2 separate regions of the Homo sapiens genome follow, and region 1 is linked to region 2. The links come from fine-mapping of genetic effects on gene expression. Tissue or cell type: whole blood. Region 2 holds a variant in brackets; the other region holds the start of a gene. All regions are shown on one strand. Distances are between the middles of the regions.

The links. PIP is the estimated chance that this variant, and not a neighbour inherited with it, causes the effect.
Region 1: it holds the start of CAMK1D, and the variant in region 2 is fine-mapped to the expression of CAMK1D in whole blood (TOPMed, PIP above 0.99).

Annotation. Positions count from the first base shown.
Region 1 is chr10:12,346,264-12,354,347 of GRCh38, reverse strand. It overlaps CAMK1D (calcium/calmodulin dependent protein kinase ID), which reads right to left and starts at 4,801. Exons shown (of 11, transcript NM_153498.4): 1 at 4,438-4,801. The coding sequence starts at 4,529. RefSeq lists enhancers at 3,653-3,812, 3,987-4,486 and silencers at 4,523-4,612, 4,783-5,342, 5,383-5,642.
Region 2 is chr10:12,824,208-12,832,308 of GRCh38, reverse strand. CAMK1D (calcium/calmodulin dependent protein kinase ID) reads right to left here. Exons shown (of 11, transcript NM_153498.4): 9 at 7,757-7,844; 10 at 6,619-6,736; 11 at 1-3,540. The coding sequence ends at 3,422. Among named protein-coding and RNA genes, the nearest start is that of MIR548Q, 100 kb to the right of the region's middle. The variant G/A (reference allele first, on the strand shown) is at 3,141.

The DNA of each region.
Region 1 (8,084 bases), 480 kb after region 2:
AGAAGGTAATGTAGGTCAATGTCCAAGCAGTCCACAGGCCACAAAACCCCTCATGGCTGAACCAGACCTAAAACCCAGTCTCAAATCCTCCACGATGCCTTGTCCAGCCATCTACAGACAGGAACAACTTCAACTTCAAATGCTCAGTCTACACGAAAAACATGCATTCATATCCCGCGGAGATGAAGATCCATTTTCTAGGGCATGCCATGTTCTGTACTCCAGGGGAAATGAGGTTTGTTGGGAGACTCATTCTGCCACGTGCCAAGTACCCAGGCCTTTCCATTCACATACATTTCACAGCCTGGAAATTGCAGAAGTGACTTCTATGAGTCTAGGGTGCTTCCTAGACACCACACCGAAGCTTTCCTCCCATCCATATACTTCTCCGAATAGTATTTTAGGGGTTTTTTTATTTTTTGCTTCAGTAGTCACTGAAAGATAGCTACGATAGGGACGGCCTGAACAGCCTTGGCAAATACACCAACAGAAATGTGTACCCCTCCTAATTTGCCATTACATAACATTTATTTGTTCTCATAGTGTGCCAAGGGTCTGAAAACATGTTGATTAATAGACAATAATTAAGTCTCACCACCTTATTCAGAGATATGGTTATGTTCTGGGATTCCCTTTTGTAGGAGGCTGCACTGAAGCGCACAGGTTGAAAGGTTTGTCCCTGAGACCTGACTCAGAGGTGCATCAGACAACCCAGGCCAGACCACAAAGCCCAGTCCTTTCTCTTATGCTGCTCTTTGCTTCCTCAATCTCATTTTCCACCCTCCTGGGCCAACCTTCACTCCCATTCGGCCCCCACTCTCCAGCAAGGTCCCTCTAACCATACAGCCTAACCGCCTTGACCCCTTAGCTTCCAACAGTAAATGCTCGGCTCCATGAGGTGAGATACCTGGATAAGGCAGTGGATATCAGATTACAAAGTCTGGCAAAATGAGTGCTCCTCCAGCCTTTGCAATGCTTTATTTTAAATACATGTGAACATTGTGAGCTGACAGCCCTGCTTCTTACAAGGCTTTCCTGCCTTCGTATCTTAAAGACGTAGGGAGAAAGTAGGGCAAACAAAGTGACTGGAACTGCGGCATACTTTGGAAATGAATGCCAGTGGTTAATTGTCGATGCCTTTCATTTGTGTTAGATTTCATTCAAAACAAGAGAAGGGCCCAGACTCAAAATCCCCACTGAAGGGACCAGAAGTCAACTCCACATTAAGACTCGGGCCAGAGTCACCGGTCATGGCCCAGGGTGGAGCAGGCATCTTGAACTGGGGACCACTTCTAGAAAGTACACAGAGGCGGCTGGGCGCAGTAGCTCACGCCTGTAATCCCAGCACTTTGGGAGGCCGAGGCAGGCGGATCATGAGGTCAGGAGATCGAGACCATCCTGGCTAACACGGTGAAACCCCGTCTCTACTAAAAATACAAAAAAATTAGCCAGGCATGGCGGCGGGCGTCTGTAGTCCCAGTTACTCGGGAGGCTGAGACAGGAGAATGGCGTGAACCCATGAGGCAGAGCTTGCAGTGAGCCGAGATTGCGCCACTGCACTCCAGCCTGGGCAACAGAGTGAGACTCCGTCTCAAAAAAAAAAAAAAGAAAGTCCACAGAAGCAAAAGGACGACAATCCAAAAGCTCTGAAATGCTTCCAAGTTTTCCAAGTTTAGATAACATTATGCTATCATTATTGCCATCATTATGTTTTCTCATTTATTTTATTTTATTTTTTTGAGACCGAGTCTCACTCTGTGGCCCAGGCTGGAGGGCAGTGGCGCAATCTCAACTCACTGAAATCTCTGCCTCCCCAGTTCAAGCGATTCTCCTGCCTCAGCCTCCCGAGTAGCTGGAATTATAGGCACACACCACCACACCCGGCTAATTTTGTTATTGTTAGTAGCAACAGGGTTTCACCATGTTGGCCAGGCTGGTCTCGAACTCCTGACTTAAGTGATCAGCTCGCCTCAGCCTCCCAAAGTGTTGGGATTACAGGTGTGAGCCACCACGCCCAGCCCATTATGTTTTCTTTACATTAATATTAAAGTTCGCGTTCCAAATACTAAAGTTAAGTCAAATTATTGACTAAGCATTGGCCATTACAGGATCTACAAAGTGTGTCAACCCTGTATGGACAATCAAAAGTTGCTCTGCCTATCTGTGAATACCAGCTCCGCCACTTAATAGTTAGCTAAGGTTTGGTAGCTCACATAATTATCTCTGCTGCCTTAGTTTTCTCATCTGCAAATTGGGTGTAATGGTAAATACCTACCTCATAAGGTTACTCTGAGATTTAAATGAGTTAATACACATAAGGCACGTAGAATAATACCTGATCCTGGGTATACATTTCAGAATACCACCTATGATTACCATGATTATTATGTGGAGTAAAAACATCTTGATCATCACACTGTTTCTATCATTCTTCTAGGTCCAATGCCAGTGCTACAGTGGGAAGCTCCTTTGCAAAGAATTCCATCCCAGGCAGAAGGCAATGCTTTAGGACCCTAAGAGAGACCCATTCCCAAAGCTCACAGGGAACATGGCTGGAGTCCAAGAGGCTGTTCTGCCAGAGAAGCGCTCTGGCACCAGAGGGCAAATCCCCATTTTTCCCCAAGGTGGAAACCACCCACAGTCATCTCCAAACACCATGCTCCAGCAGGAGCCACAGCTTGGAGCCTCAGCAGCCCCGCCACTGCAGAGGTGCAGCTGCACGAGTCAGTCAGGGGACAGGGCATCAGTCACCCGGAGGCTACAGGCAGGAAGCCAGTGTGGGGGGCTCGGGTGGGAACAAGCCACGGACAGGAAAGCATTCACACAGGGTGGGTCCCCATGCTCTCCCATCTCCTCATTGGCGGCCACAGTGCGGGTCCTGGATGACAAGCAAAGGCCATGCTTTCTTGTCTCTCAGTAACTTGAGCATCTCAGAATCACAACCCCAAACCCGAATAAACCTCAGTGGCAATTTTCAAAAGTTTTGACCCAAACTAACCCCTTACCTGGCTGCACTAAGAGGCAACCCCAAACCCCTATTTATTAAAAAGCTACATCTTTTTCTGTTTTCATTCCAACAAAGATAGCAAATAGGTGCCCTCCCTGAAAGGCAACAACCACAGCAGGGAGACCCCACTCTAGTCCTCAGCGTGCGCCTTCCCGGGAATCAGAAGCAGGACTGGGAAAGCCACCCTCACAACTTCTCTCCGGGGGACCCCCTGCAGATCTGCGTGGGGGTGAGGGGAAATGACTGAACAGCAGCAGACGCCGAGCCTGGAGGTGAAGACAAGCTGGGTAATGTGGTGCTGGAAAAAAGAAACCAAGCACAAAAACAAGCACACGGAAAAAAAGGAGGAAGGAAAGAAAGGGCACCCAACAACGCACTGATTTATCCCATGAAATAGCTCCCCTTTCTCTTCCCAGCCTAATCAACACCTCCATGAACCCCTGCAAAATGGGCATTTCTGACTGCACACCTGTGCGTGAATCCACACTGACAGATACTGATGCAGAGCAAATACTGATTGTGTGAGGGAAGGAAATAACTTGAACTTCAGACTCATTCGGCAGGTCCTGATTCTCTTTCACTATCAGCCTCCCCACCTATTCTGAGCCGCTCCGAAACAAAACAAACAAGACCCAACTCCTGGGCAGAAAGGGAACAGCAGCTGAGCTGAGCAGCACATGCTTGGAGCGTTCCTGCCATCGACTTCGGATTATTTCTGCTTTCTTGAGACACAGCCATCAGCATGGGACTCGATGCAGCCCGGAGAGAGCACCGCCCGCGCAGCGACGCGCACAGACCCTCCCTTGGAGACGCGCTCCCCGGCGCGTGCGGCCGAGCCCGCGTGAAATGCACAGACCCTCCGGTGAGGCTCTGCCCACGTGTGACCCTGAGCACTGCGAAGCCCTTCCCTTCCATCCTCGCGTGGCCACCCAAAGTCTTGCCTACACCTCGTACGTGCAGATGCCAATTCCATAGAAATACATGATGTAAGGACAGAAATGGGAACGACTGGAGGCTGATCTTCTCGTGACCACGTCTCGCCAACGCGGTGCGCCCATGCACACGGCGAGTAAACGCACACAGCCGGTAAACAGCCATCCCCACCATGCTCAGCCCACAGTCACGCGTGGGGAGAAGGCAGCGGAGAGGGCGGCGGTGGCAGGAGAAGTGGGAAGTCGCGCGCCCGCGTGGGCTGCTCCCTGACAGCCCGGCGCTGCCCCCTCCCCCTCCCGGGAACGGCGCCCACCCGGGGGTCGCAGGCCCACGCGTCGGGCGCGCTCGGGGGGGCTCCGCAGCGCCGAGAACGGGACAATGAGGACGCGGTGACAGGCTGGGTTTCTGCCGCGGTAGTGGCGGCGGCGGCAGCTGGAGCTGCCCGTGCAGCCCCTGCCGCGGCCACCTCCACCCTCGCCTCCCCGGTCCCCACTTACGTTCCGAGGGTCTCTTTGAACTCGAAGATCTTCTTGATGTCTTCAGCTTGCTTTTTCCAGGAGGAGCTGCTCTCGCCGTTCTCCCGGGCCATGGCCGACGAGCGCGGCGCGGAGGAGCGGCCGGGGGCGCGCTGGGGAGGGGGCGCCGGGGGCGCGGCGCGGGCGCAGAGGCGGCGGGGATGCCGGGCGGCTCGGGCTGCGGCGCAGCTTCCTCCTCTGCAGTTTCCTCTTTCGCTCTCGCCGCCGCCGCCGCGGCCGCGGTCCCTCCCTGGCTCTTATTTCTGCTGTTCTCGGGCACAGACTTCCTGCCGCCGCCGCGCGCCGGCTCCTTTGCCGCCGCCTGCCAGCCTCACTTTCTGCTACTTTCTTGCCTCCCTCCCGCTCCCTCCCTGCCGCCCGCCGCGCTCCCCCCCACCTCGCGCCTCCTCCCCCTCCTCCCCCTCCTCCCCCTCCCGCGGGCTCCCCGCCCTCTCCGTGCGCCCCGGCCGCTCCCCGCCTCCAGCGCGCCGCCTTCGGGGATGTCCCGCTCCCCTCCCAAGAGCGCCGGGCCACGGCCGTCGTGCCCCCTGGAGCCCCGGCGAGGGCGGGTACGGGCCCCCGGCAGGTGCGGGGCGCACGCGGGAGAGCCCCAGCCCCTCCGGGAGCTGGAAACGGAGCCCAGTCTGGGGGCGCCGGGGCTTTCCCGTCTCCGGCGGGAGGGGGCGCCTCTGCGTGGCTCGGAAGCGCCGGGCGGGCGGGGGTGCGCGGCGGCCGGATGCGGGGCGCCGAGGGCGGGGCGCCTTCCCGCGCTGTGGCCTGTGGCCCGGGGGACCCGAGGGGCAAGGCGTGGGGTGGGGGGGGTGGGGGCCGGTTGTTATGGCGACGGGCGGCGGCGGCGGCTGGGATGGAGGCGGAGGCGGGCGGGAGCTCATTCGCATTGCACCAAATCGGTTTCACGTCAGTTTCGGGACAGACCCGCGAGGAGCAAGCCGGGGAGCCTCTGGGCGGGTACGCGCAGGACGCGCCAGCAGCTGCCTCGTGGTCCCTTTGCGAGCAAAACTCCCGGGGGTGTTTGGCAGCCGCGCGGGCGCCCTGGTGCTGGGCTGGAGCGGCCGGCGGGCCTGGCCGGCCTGGTTGCCCTGGCTCACGCTTGGCCCCTTCTGGCATCTCCCTGTCTCCTCCCAGAGACTCAGTGGAAAGAAGTGATCGTCTGCCCCGCAGTCCCCTCGAAGGAGGAGCCCACCCGCGGCTGGCTTAGTAGGGTGTCCGGGTTGCGGGGCAGGCACCTGCTTTCCTATGGACTGCCAAAACTAACCCAGAGAATTCCCTCCGGACTCCCATCTCCCAGCTGTACTTTGGCCTGCCCGCCCCACTCCTGGTGTCCACCTGTCAGAGGGCAGCCCACGTGCTCCAGTTCCCTGGTCCCCAACCTGCAGGGGCGACCTCTTGATCGGAAAATTTTAGATTTCTTGGTATCAACACTTCGCCTCCCTCAGGGCCTCTCCTCGTAGTTGGGTAAACAGCTCTGTCTCTTGACTGGGGACACCTGTCCCATTTTCCCAGGACTGTTCCAATTTCACTGTAAAAGGAAAAAAAAAATCTGCTCCCTGAATAGGAAACTTCATCCAGCACCTTGTGCCTAGTTCTGACTCTGGCTGAAGTGGAGGCAGCCCAGCTGCTCTCCCTCAGCCCCTACTCTGACCCTAAAGAGGTCAGACGACACCCTGGCATCCCCATTCCTGGGACCTCCATGCTAGTTTCCATCTTTCAAAGACGGTTAGCTTAAGGTTTTCCAAACTGAGAAGAGCAAAGAGGGGATTTACTTGCCGGTTAGATGTAGAATAAATCCACAAACCCAATTTCCAACACGGATGGGTGAGAAGAATTACTAAGGAACCTCTCTTATACTTGAGGCACATTACCAAAGTTCAAGGCAAACAGCATCCCCTTCAATAAGAAACATTTGAAAAACTATCATGTATTTTACTTGTGCCAAAGGTTAGATAATACAAACAGTGGGAACCAGGGCATAAGTCAACTAAGATCCCAACTGTCGCTTTCTCATGCCTACAGTCAGCATCTTCTTGTCCTTTCTTTCTCCTTCCCTTCCTCCCACTGTGTTTCCTTCTCCTCTTTTCCTATTTGGTTCTCTGCTATGTTGCCCTTGCTGCCTGGCCTCAGGAACAGCCGCCAGAGCTCATGAAAACAATTCTCATTCTCAGCTATTATCCCCACAGCTGAAGAAGTGCTGATTCTCTACTACCCGGCCATAAAAAAGAATGAAATCATGTCTTTTGCAGCAACGCAGTTGGAACTGAAGGCCATTATCTTAGGTGAAATAACTCAGAAACAGAAAGTCAAATACCACATGTTCTCACTTAGAAGTGAGAGCTAAGGCTAGGCATGGTGGCTCACGCCTGTAATCCCAGCACTTTGGGAGGCCTAGGCCAGTGGATCACCTGAGGTCAGGAGTTCAAGACCAGCCTGGCCAACATGGTGAAACTCTATTAAAAATAAAAATTAGCCAGGCATGGTGGCACATGCCTGTAATCCCAGCTACTCAGGAGGCTGAGGCAGGAGAATCACTGTAACCTAGGAGGTTGCAGTGAGCGAAGATTGCACCATTGCACTCCAGCCTGGCGACAGAGCAAGACTCCATCTCAAAAAAAAAAAAAGGAGAAGAAGTGGGAGCTAAATAATGTGTATATGTGGACAGAGAGTGTGGAATAATGACATTGGAGTGGGGTAGGGGAAGGGATGAGAAATTAACTAATGGGCATGGTGTACCCTATTCTGGTGATGGTTAAGCTAAAAGCCCAGACCTCACCACTACGCAATATATCCATGTAACAAAACTGCACTTGTACCCCTAAATCTATAAAAATAACCATTAGAAAAAAAGAAAGAAGGCAATTTTACAGGAACAGTAAAGATGAAGGGAAAGCAAATGAGAACTTCCACGTGGCCTGTGGCCGTGACTTTTCCTACCAGGCTATAAGCTCCATGAGAGCAAGGCACCTGTTAACTTTCTCGCCACTGTTTCCCAGCACCTGACACGGTAACCTACCCATACTGACTGATCTGTAAATGTGTGTCGAATGGATAAAGAAATGAAATTGAGGCCAGGCGTGGCAGCTCACGCCTGTAAAATGCCAGCACTTTAAGAGGCAGAGGCAGGCGGATCACCTAAGATCAGGAGTATGAGACCAGCCCGGCCAACATGGTGAAACCCTGTCTCTGCTAAAACTACAAAAATTAGCCGGGCGTGGTGGTGTGCGCCTGTATCCCAGCTACTCAGGAGGCTGAGGCAGGAGAATCACTTGAACCCAGGAGGCAGAGGTTGCAGTGAGCCGAGATCATGCCACTGCACTCCAGCCTGGTCAACAGAGTGATATTCTGTTCAAAAAAAAAAAAAAAGAAAGAAATGAAATCGAGTTAAGACCGCTATTTGGTATTTGTTGTACTGGTGGAACTGCTGTAGGGAGCTTTATTTCTTTTCCAGACTTTCTGTAATGATGTTCATTTGGCATTATCAAGCTATTCTAAGCTGGACGAGGTCCTCAAGAAAAAGCATACTTCTTTTTTTTCTTTATTTTCTTTTTTTTTTTTTTAAGACAAATTCTTGCTCTGTCGCCACGGTAGAGTGCGGTGATCTCAGCTCACTGTAA
Region 2 (8,101 bases):
CAGACTCCAAGGCCACCTCTGTGAAAAGGGCCAAGCTGCTGGCCTGTTGGTGCCCGCTCACTGTTTGTCTCAATGAATAGAAACTCCTCCTATTGCCTCACGTATGAGATGAAGATCCGGGAAGCCAGGGAGCCCAGACAGGCAGCTGAGGGAAAGGCCACTCCAGGCCACTACTTCAACATTGAATACTCCAAGTGAGGAAAAGAGAATCCACTTGCTCTGAGAAGGGATAGTGACCAAATGGGGGACTTGGGCTCAGGAAGGAAGCCTGTGATGGGGTCTACGCGTCCACCCTTAGCCTCAGCCCAGCACCCTGGGTGCATGTAGAAATGCTCAGCCTCTACAGGTGGACTCTGACCTTGGTGCGGGTCCTAGGACTCTGAGACCCCATTTGTCAGACCTTCACGAAAGGCACATTCTAGGTTCTCTTCCTGTTTTATAAGAAAACAAATCATACCAAGCGCAGTGCAAAGACAACCTCTTTTTAACATGAGAGCTCTCTCAAAAGCACAAGAGCGCCTCTCTTTCTCTGAAGCAATAGGAAATTAACCCAAGCCTGGTGGGATCAGGACAGTACAGGCTTCCTGATGTCATGCTCAACAGTTGACTCTTGGGCTGAAACCAGTCACTGTCTCCTCGCACGATGTTGTTGAGACCCGGCGTGTGACAGGCCAAGCATGGCCAAGAACTGACCCGAACAGCGAGGGGGGCACCTGCACCACGGCTCACCTTTCAGAGGTTCTGCACTTTTTGGGTGAGGGATACTTTCAAACTAAGTGCATATAACATGCACCACATGTATCTGCTCCTGAAAATACTTCAATCACCAGTAATGGAACTCAGCTTCAAATGCTGCTTTCTGAATGCAAATGGTTGTATATAGCACACAGCACAAAGGGCTATTCATCACTATTCATGTACTCATCCTAGGTACCAGATTCGGGTGCATTTTCAGCGCTTGCAGCCTTCTATTACTTTGTCATGCACTGTATGAACTCGAATGTTTCCAAGACACTTCTTAGTAAGCAACCGCCTAGTTCTCCAATACTGCTTATAATATTCATTCATTGCATGGCCAACTCAGGTGACACTTGCTTCTTAACTGGGTCTAATGTCATCTTATAGACCTTTCCAGGGTTTTTAGATTTTGCAGAGTGACAGCTTGATTTTTCACCCTGTGAGCATGCGTGGCAGATGCCATGCAGAATTCCTGCCAAGCAGTGGAGTGCCTGTGAAGTGTGCGGGGACAGGGTAGACCAGCTGCCTGTCTTCCCAACTGCTCTTCTCTGTGCCTGCACTGCCATTCTCAGGGAGCAGGATGGAGCTGCTGTGCCTAATAACATTGTGTGTGTGTGTGTGTGTGTGTGTGTGTGTGTGTGTGTTTATTGAGAGGGTGGGGGGGCATCACTCAACATTCAGCCTGTACATACTCAAAGGTGTAGAAGTGACAAAGATGACTCAACCAACAGGACTTCCCATGACTGGCCAGCCAGAGGAAGAGGGCATGAGGACACAGCCAGCAGCGTTACTGGGTCGTGATGACGCAGACCTGCCGGGACACCCCCGTGGGCTCGAGGCATTGGATGGGCCTGAGAGCTGAAGCAGGGGCACTTGCAGGAATGGCACTTGAAGCCACCTGCCTGGCTTTACAGGGCAGCCTCCTGGAAGCCTCCATGAAACGCAGCTTTCCCTGGGCCACACACTGCCTGGCTCCACAAAGGCGAACAACACAGCCTGCTTTGCCCCGGATATTCCTGGTTTTGGCATTAAATGTCCACAGCCTGAGAAATCCTTCAGTCTCGGGCAAATGGGACGTTTGGTGACCCTACCACCATGTATCTTTGATTTTAGACTCCCCTGACCAATGGGAGGGCTGCAAGCACTGGCTGGGCCTGGCGGAGGTGGTCTTTGGTCATCTCTGTGGTGGCTGAAGTCCCATTAGCCTGGCAGGGCCCCCTCTCCTTACCACCAGAAATGGATCCTTTCCCAAGGCTGCTTCCCTCCCTTCCTTCCCTTGGAAAACATTCATGTGAGAAGAGGGTAAAAATGTGGAGAAAGAACTTTGTGTTGGAGGCCACGTGAAGTGTAAGATTAGAAATGCATTTTTTTAAAAACCACAGAGAAAGAGATGAATTTTAACACTGCATAGCTGAGCTTTCATCTGTTAGCTCTCGTGAGAAATGAGGGTTGTGTGTGGGCCCACTTTCAGCAACATGGCAGCTGGTTCCTTTTGCAAGGGAGGGTCCTGCATCTCTGCAGTGTGGGCATCTCACTCACAGCAAGTCTGGCCTGTGAAGCTGAGCCCTGCGTCTCGGGGGAGCAGGCTTATTTCTGGTTGCTGATGGCAAGAGGCCTCTAGGGTCTCTGGTGGGTGTGGGTTCTGCTGGATGGGTTGCCAGCAAAGGCTCTGTGCAGATTCTCTACCAAAGTCCCCCGCAGAGAAGAGAGCCTCGCAGAACTGAGGGGCCCCTCCTCCTGGGGAAGGGGAGAGAAACAGAAGGAGTAGAGGTGAAGGGCACTCTTAGCCTTGGAGACAGATTCATGATCCTCTTGTTAGAATTTTTTTTTTTTTTTTTGAGACAGAGTCTTGCTCTGTCACCCAGGCTGGAGTGCAGTGGCACGATCTCAGCTCACTGCAACCTCCGTCTCCCGGGTTCAAGCAATTCTCCTGCCTCAGCCTCCCGAGTAGCCGGGACTACAGGTGTGTGCCACCACGCCCGGCTAATTTTTTGTATTTTTAGTAGACGTGGGGTTTCACCATGTTGGCCAGGATGGCCTTGATCTCCTGACCTTGTGATCCGCCCGACTTGGCCTCCCAACGTGCTGGGATTACAGGCATGAGTCATTGCACCCGGCTGATCCTCTTATTAGAATTTTAAAAAATACCTTTAAATTCTCCTTTGAGGAAAAACAAATCTCTTAAAGGTTAACATAAAACTACTATTAAAGAGGAAAAGATATAGGTCATGTAACTTAGAGATACAAAGGACATACTTCTTAAAAGGAAAAACAAACCCTAATGCACAATATTTACCAATATTTAAATAATCCAGTTGAAACCTTTTTTTTTTTGTCATTAATGAAAAAACACACCATAGACGGTTACCTACACTGAGAAGAGTGGAAACGATGGTGTTAGG[G/A]GAGAGGAATAAGAAGGTCCGTTCAGTTAGAGCTTTGCAAGATTCGTATATACAGCACCAGATCCTATGAAATCAGCGCCCCTCGAGTCAGTACAGTTTGTGAGAAATGAACACTTCAGAATTGCAGTAGAAAATATGGCCATAAAAAAACTTCGGTCTTCCAGTCCTATGCAGGAAGGGGCACCATGCAAGGTGGGGTCTCGCTGGAGTGGCTCGCGGCTCTGGCGACCCTGGGGCTCCCCTTCCCCAGCCCCGACCCCGGGCCCCACCTCCAGGGCCAGTCACTTGCTTCCAGAGTGCACTGCCGTCACAGTGGTGGGCCTGGGTCTCCGCTCGGCTCCAACTCCTGAGACCCCCGACGAAGAAGAAATGAAACTACAGAGCGTGGAAGGTGCCAGACCTGCAGGGAACAGCAGAAGTGGGCTTCAGAGTTTCAGAGGTAAATTCTCACCCTGCTTCCCACTGCCAGGTGTCAGAGGGGCTGGGTTTATGGTGGGGGGCGGGGGGGCCCAATTTTTTTTTTTTCTTGAGATGGAGTTTCACTCTTTTCACCAGGCTGGAGTGCAGTGGCACGATCTCGGGTCACTGCAACCTCTGCCTGCCAGGTTCAAGCGATTCTCGTGCTTCAGCCTCCCGAGTAGCTGGGATTACAGGGGCTCACCACCACGCCGGGCTAATTTTTGTATTTTTAGTAGAGATGGGGTTTCACCATGTTGGCCAGGCTGGTCTCGAACTCCTGACCTCAGGTGATCCACCCACCTCAGCCTCCCAAAGTGCTGGGATTACGGGTGTGAGCCACCGCGCCCAACTTGCGGGGACCCAAATTTTTACCCGTGTGACTATTTTTACCTACCTGTGGGAAAGCCTTTGCAATGGGTTCAAAATGCTTTATTCTTAGACCTCTCCTCTCCTTTTTTTTGGTGTAATTTTAACTGCTTTGTGTTTGAAAACAACATGGTTTCACCACTGTGGTACAACAGGTTCCATGTACTGAGCACTTAATATGTAGCAGGCACCAGGCTAGTGTTGACTACATACTGTCATCATACGAATTGTCCACTTCTTATAATAGCTCTGTAAAGCAGGTATTTTAAGAAGGAATAAAGAATGATACTACCTTCCTACCCTTGGTTGGTGTGTTGTGTACACTCTTGGCTAGAAAGCATTTTGTGACGCAGAGCACTTTGAAATAAGGGTATGGTGGCTGACGCCTGTAATCTCAACACTTTGGGAGGCCAAGGTGGGTGGATCGCTTGAGTCTCAGGAGTTCCAGACCAGCTGGGGCAACCCTGGGTCTACAAAAAATACAAAAATTAGCTGCGCACGGTGGTACATGCCTGTTGTCCCAGCTACTCAGAAGGCTGAGACAGGAGGATTACTTGAGCCTAGGAGGTTGAGGTTGCAGTGAGCCGTGACTGTGCCACTGCACTCCAGTCTGGGTGACAGAGAGTGAGAGAAAGAGAGAAGAAGAGAGAGGAGAGAGGAGAAAGGAGAGGGGAGAAGGGAGAGAGGAGAGAGGAGAGGGGAGAGGGGAGAGAGGAGAGAGGAGAGAGGAGGGGAGGGGAAGGCAGGGCAAGGCAGGGCAGGGCAGGGCAGGTTAGTGGAGGAGAGGAGAAGAAAGACAAGAAAAGAAAGAAAGAAAGAAAGAAAGAAAGAAAGAAAGAAAGAAAGAAAGAAAGAAAGAAAGAAAGAAAGACAGACAGACAAAGAAAGAAAAGAAAGAAAGAAAGAAGGAAGGAAGGAAGGAAAGAAAGAGAGAAAGAAGAAAGGAAGGAAGGAAGGGAAAGAAAAAGAAAGAAAGAGAAAGAAAGAAAGGAAGAAGGAAGGAAGGAAGAGAAGAGAGAGAAAGAAAGAAAAGAAAAAGAGAGAGAAAGAAAGAAAGAAAAAGAAAAGAAAGAGAAGGAAAGAAAAAGAAAGAAAGAAGGGAGGGAGGGAAGGAAAGAAGGAAGGAAAGGAAGGAGGGAGGCAGGGAGGGAAAAGAAAAGAGAGAAGAGAGAGGGAAGGAGGGAAATAAAGGAGGGAAAGAAAAAGAAAGGAAAGCAAAAAGAAAAGAAAAAAGAGCAAGAATAGAGATGTTCACCTATTCCTGTGTGAGCTCAGCAGTCCCTGGCCTAGTGGAGCTCCTCAGAGGCTGCGCTGAAGCCCTCCCCCAGAGGATGTGCAGGCATCAAAAGCCTTGATATGAGAGGCCTCAGCCGCCACTGAGCTTGTTGGTGCAGGCCCCCAGGGAGTCTGTGTGCTCAGACATGGGGACAAACAGCCATACAAGGAGTGCTCCCGACGGGCTTTGCTGCCGATGCCAGTGTATGAATCTGTAAAGAAGGGATCCATCGTGGGGTTCCCTTTGACCAGAGGGTGGAAAAGATTCAGGGTGAAAGGGGAGCTATGGTATGTCAGGGGACACTCACAGAGATTTCTTGGGAAAATTTAAGGGCTGGATGGTCCCAAATGAGATGGGAAGATTCCTTAGAGAGGAAGGGAATCCTTTTCTGAGCCAAATGGGAAGGAGCATGATGCCCAGGGTGAGACCAGGCTGCAGGGCTGCTCCATGGTTAGGGAGATTAGGGCCACTGCTCTGATGTGGAGAGGACCCATGGGAAGGGCCAAACGGGATTATTTCCACAGAGAGAGGAGCAGTTGGGGAGAGAGATAAGGAGAGAGTAAGTGTGCCTTCGATGATGGAATAGCCCATGCAAAGACGAAGGACAATGAAATACTATTACTTTTATTGCAAAGTCAATGCACTTCACATAAATGAGCTCAAATTATCATTGTCTGCATCCAAAATATATACATTATGGAAGTCAATGGCAGGAGGCTGTCCTGAGGCTCTGCTCTCCCTTCCTCAATCCGCAAGAGTGACTGTACAATGAGAGGTAAATCAGAGGGAAGGATGGAGATGAGAAAGAGTCCAGGCCTTTATCCAGACAGACATGGCTGCGAGGACTTGAGCCCTGGATTCCTCAACTGTAAATGGAAATAGCAATACCTAGGGTTCCACGAGTGTTCAATGATTTTTCTTTTTTTTTTTTGAGAGGGAGTCTCAATCTGTCACCCAGGCTGGAGTGCAGTGGTGTGATCTCAGCTCATTGCAACCTCCGCTTCCTGGGTTCAAGTGATTCTCCTGCCTCAGCCTCCCAAGTAGCTGACATTACAGGTGCTCGCCACCACACCCGGCTAATTTTTATATTTTAGTAGAGATGGGGTTTCACCATGTTGGTCAGGCTGGTCTTAAAACTCCTGAACTCAAACAGTCCTCCTGCCTCAGCCTCCCAAAGTGTTGGGATTACAGGCGTGAGCCACTGCACCCAGCCCAGTGATTACATGTTAAAAAAAGTCCTAGGGTCGCATGACATGGGATTAAGTATAGAAAGCGCCTGGCAAACAGGAGGTGCTCGGCAGATGCCGGCTCCCTCCTCTCCACCCCAGGCTCGTCTTCAGTGTCAGCTGAGGGATTCTGGTTTTGCTACATACGCACAGTCTTTTTGGCTGGCCAAACTGAGGCTGCTCGAAACACTTGCATTTGAACTGTCCAGGCTGCTGCCGAGGTGTAGTTTTCTCATATGTCTGACGACGGCCGTGGCATTAAATGCTTGCTGAAATTTCAGAAAGGAAAAAAGCAGACAAATATTTCAGCTAATCGGAAAAGACTCTAACTGTGTTCTCTTGTTTATCACATTAGCCTAAGCATTTCAAACTCCTTACATCATTCTCATGCTACTCAAGAAGGAAAGCTTATGTTGTCCCTTCTTCTAAAAGTGCACTGATTTATTAACCCCTTTCCCCAACTAAATATTTTAGAGACTTAAAATAGTTTTCTTCTGACATCATAAATACATAGAATAAACATAAACCAATTCTCTCTGTAATTTAAGAGATGTGGCCTTTAGAATAAAAGGCATATTATAATACCTTAAAAATGTGAGATTTGAAAATAGTTTTTATTTTCCTAGTATTGGTACTTTTGTCTGAAAGATTTAGGTTGGTGCAAAAGTAATGGCAATTTTAATGGAAGAAACCACAACTACTTTTGCGCCAACCTAATGATAGCATGTCCTATGAATACAGCAGGCCAGCAAAATTAATTTTGTTTCCGTCTCATCTTTCACCATTGGCCCTCATGGCAAAATAGCTAGCTCTGAATTGCCATTGCTGATTGGAACACGGAGGGGAGGTCAGGTAATCAAGAGATTAGGAAGTCAGGTAATCAACAGATGATCACAAAACCTCCATGGTTTAAATCTGTCAAACTTTTATCAGGAAACATTGATGAGTACAACTCAGATTTCCTGTTTTTTCCCCCTCCATATCGCTTTAATAAAAGTCAGCTATTCAAAGTTCTAGCAAGGTGAAGAAAGACAAGGGTGATGTTGGTTAAGAAACAGCAGATGAGGAAGAGCTGGCACTATTGCTGTCTTTGATCACAGAGGGGAAGTGTTGAATTGCACACTCCATCCCTCTTACACCATAATATTCCCTCTGAGTCTTTATTACTTGCAGTTAAAATTAGCAAAATTATTCAGGTGAGGTTCTGGGGATTTCAGAAATGCTCAGATTGGAGGGCCAGTGTCACGAGGGGGTTAATCCACGGGGAATTTCATATACTCCACACTTACTCTCCATTTGCTCTTGGCAAAGTTTTTCCGGATCTGGGCGCTGACGGACTCGTGGATGTTTTTGTTGAGGGCTGTGTCACCAGCGATCCTGAAACAGAGGCAAAGGTGCTGCTCTGAAGTGCTTCTTCTGGGCCCTGACACTGCGTCCCATAAAGGGGAGTCTTACCTAGCCTCAGGAGAGCCGAGGCTCAGTCGTGGACAGGGTGGCTGGCCGCTGCCCTTCCAGGCTGCTGATGTCATCACCTGGCCATTCCCTAAACCCACCCATTCTAACCCCTCACCACAAAGTCCTATTCCAGCTTCTACACTCCGCACCCTCCCCAGACCCGCCAGCGCCCTCCTGGT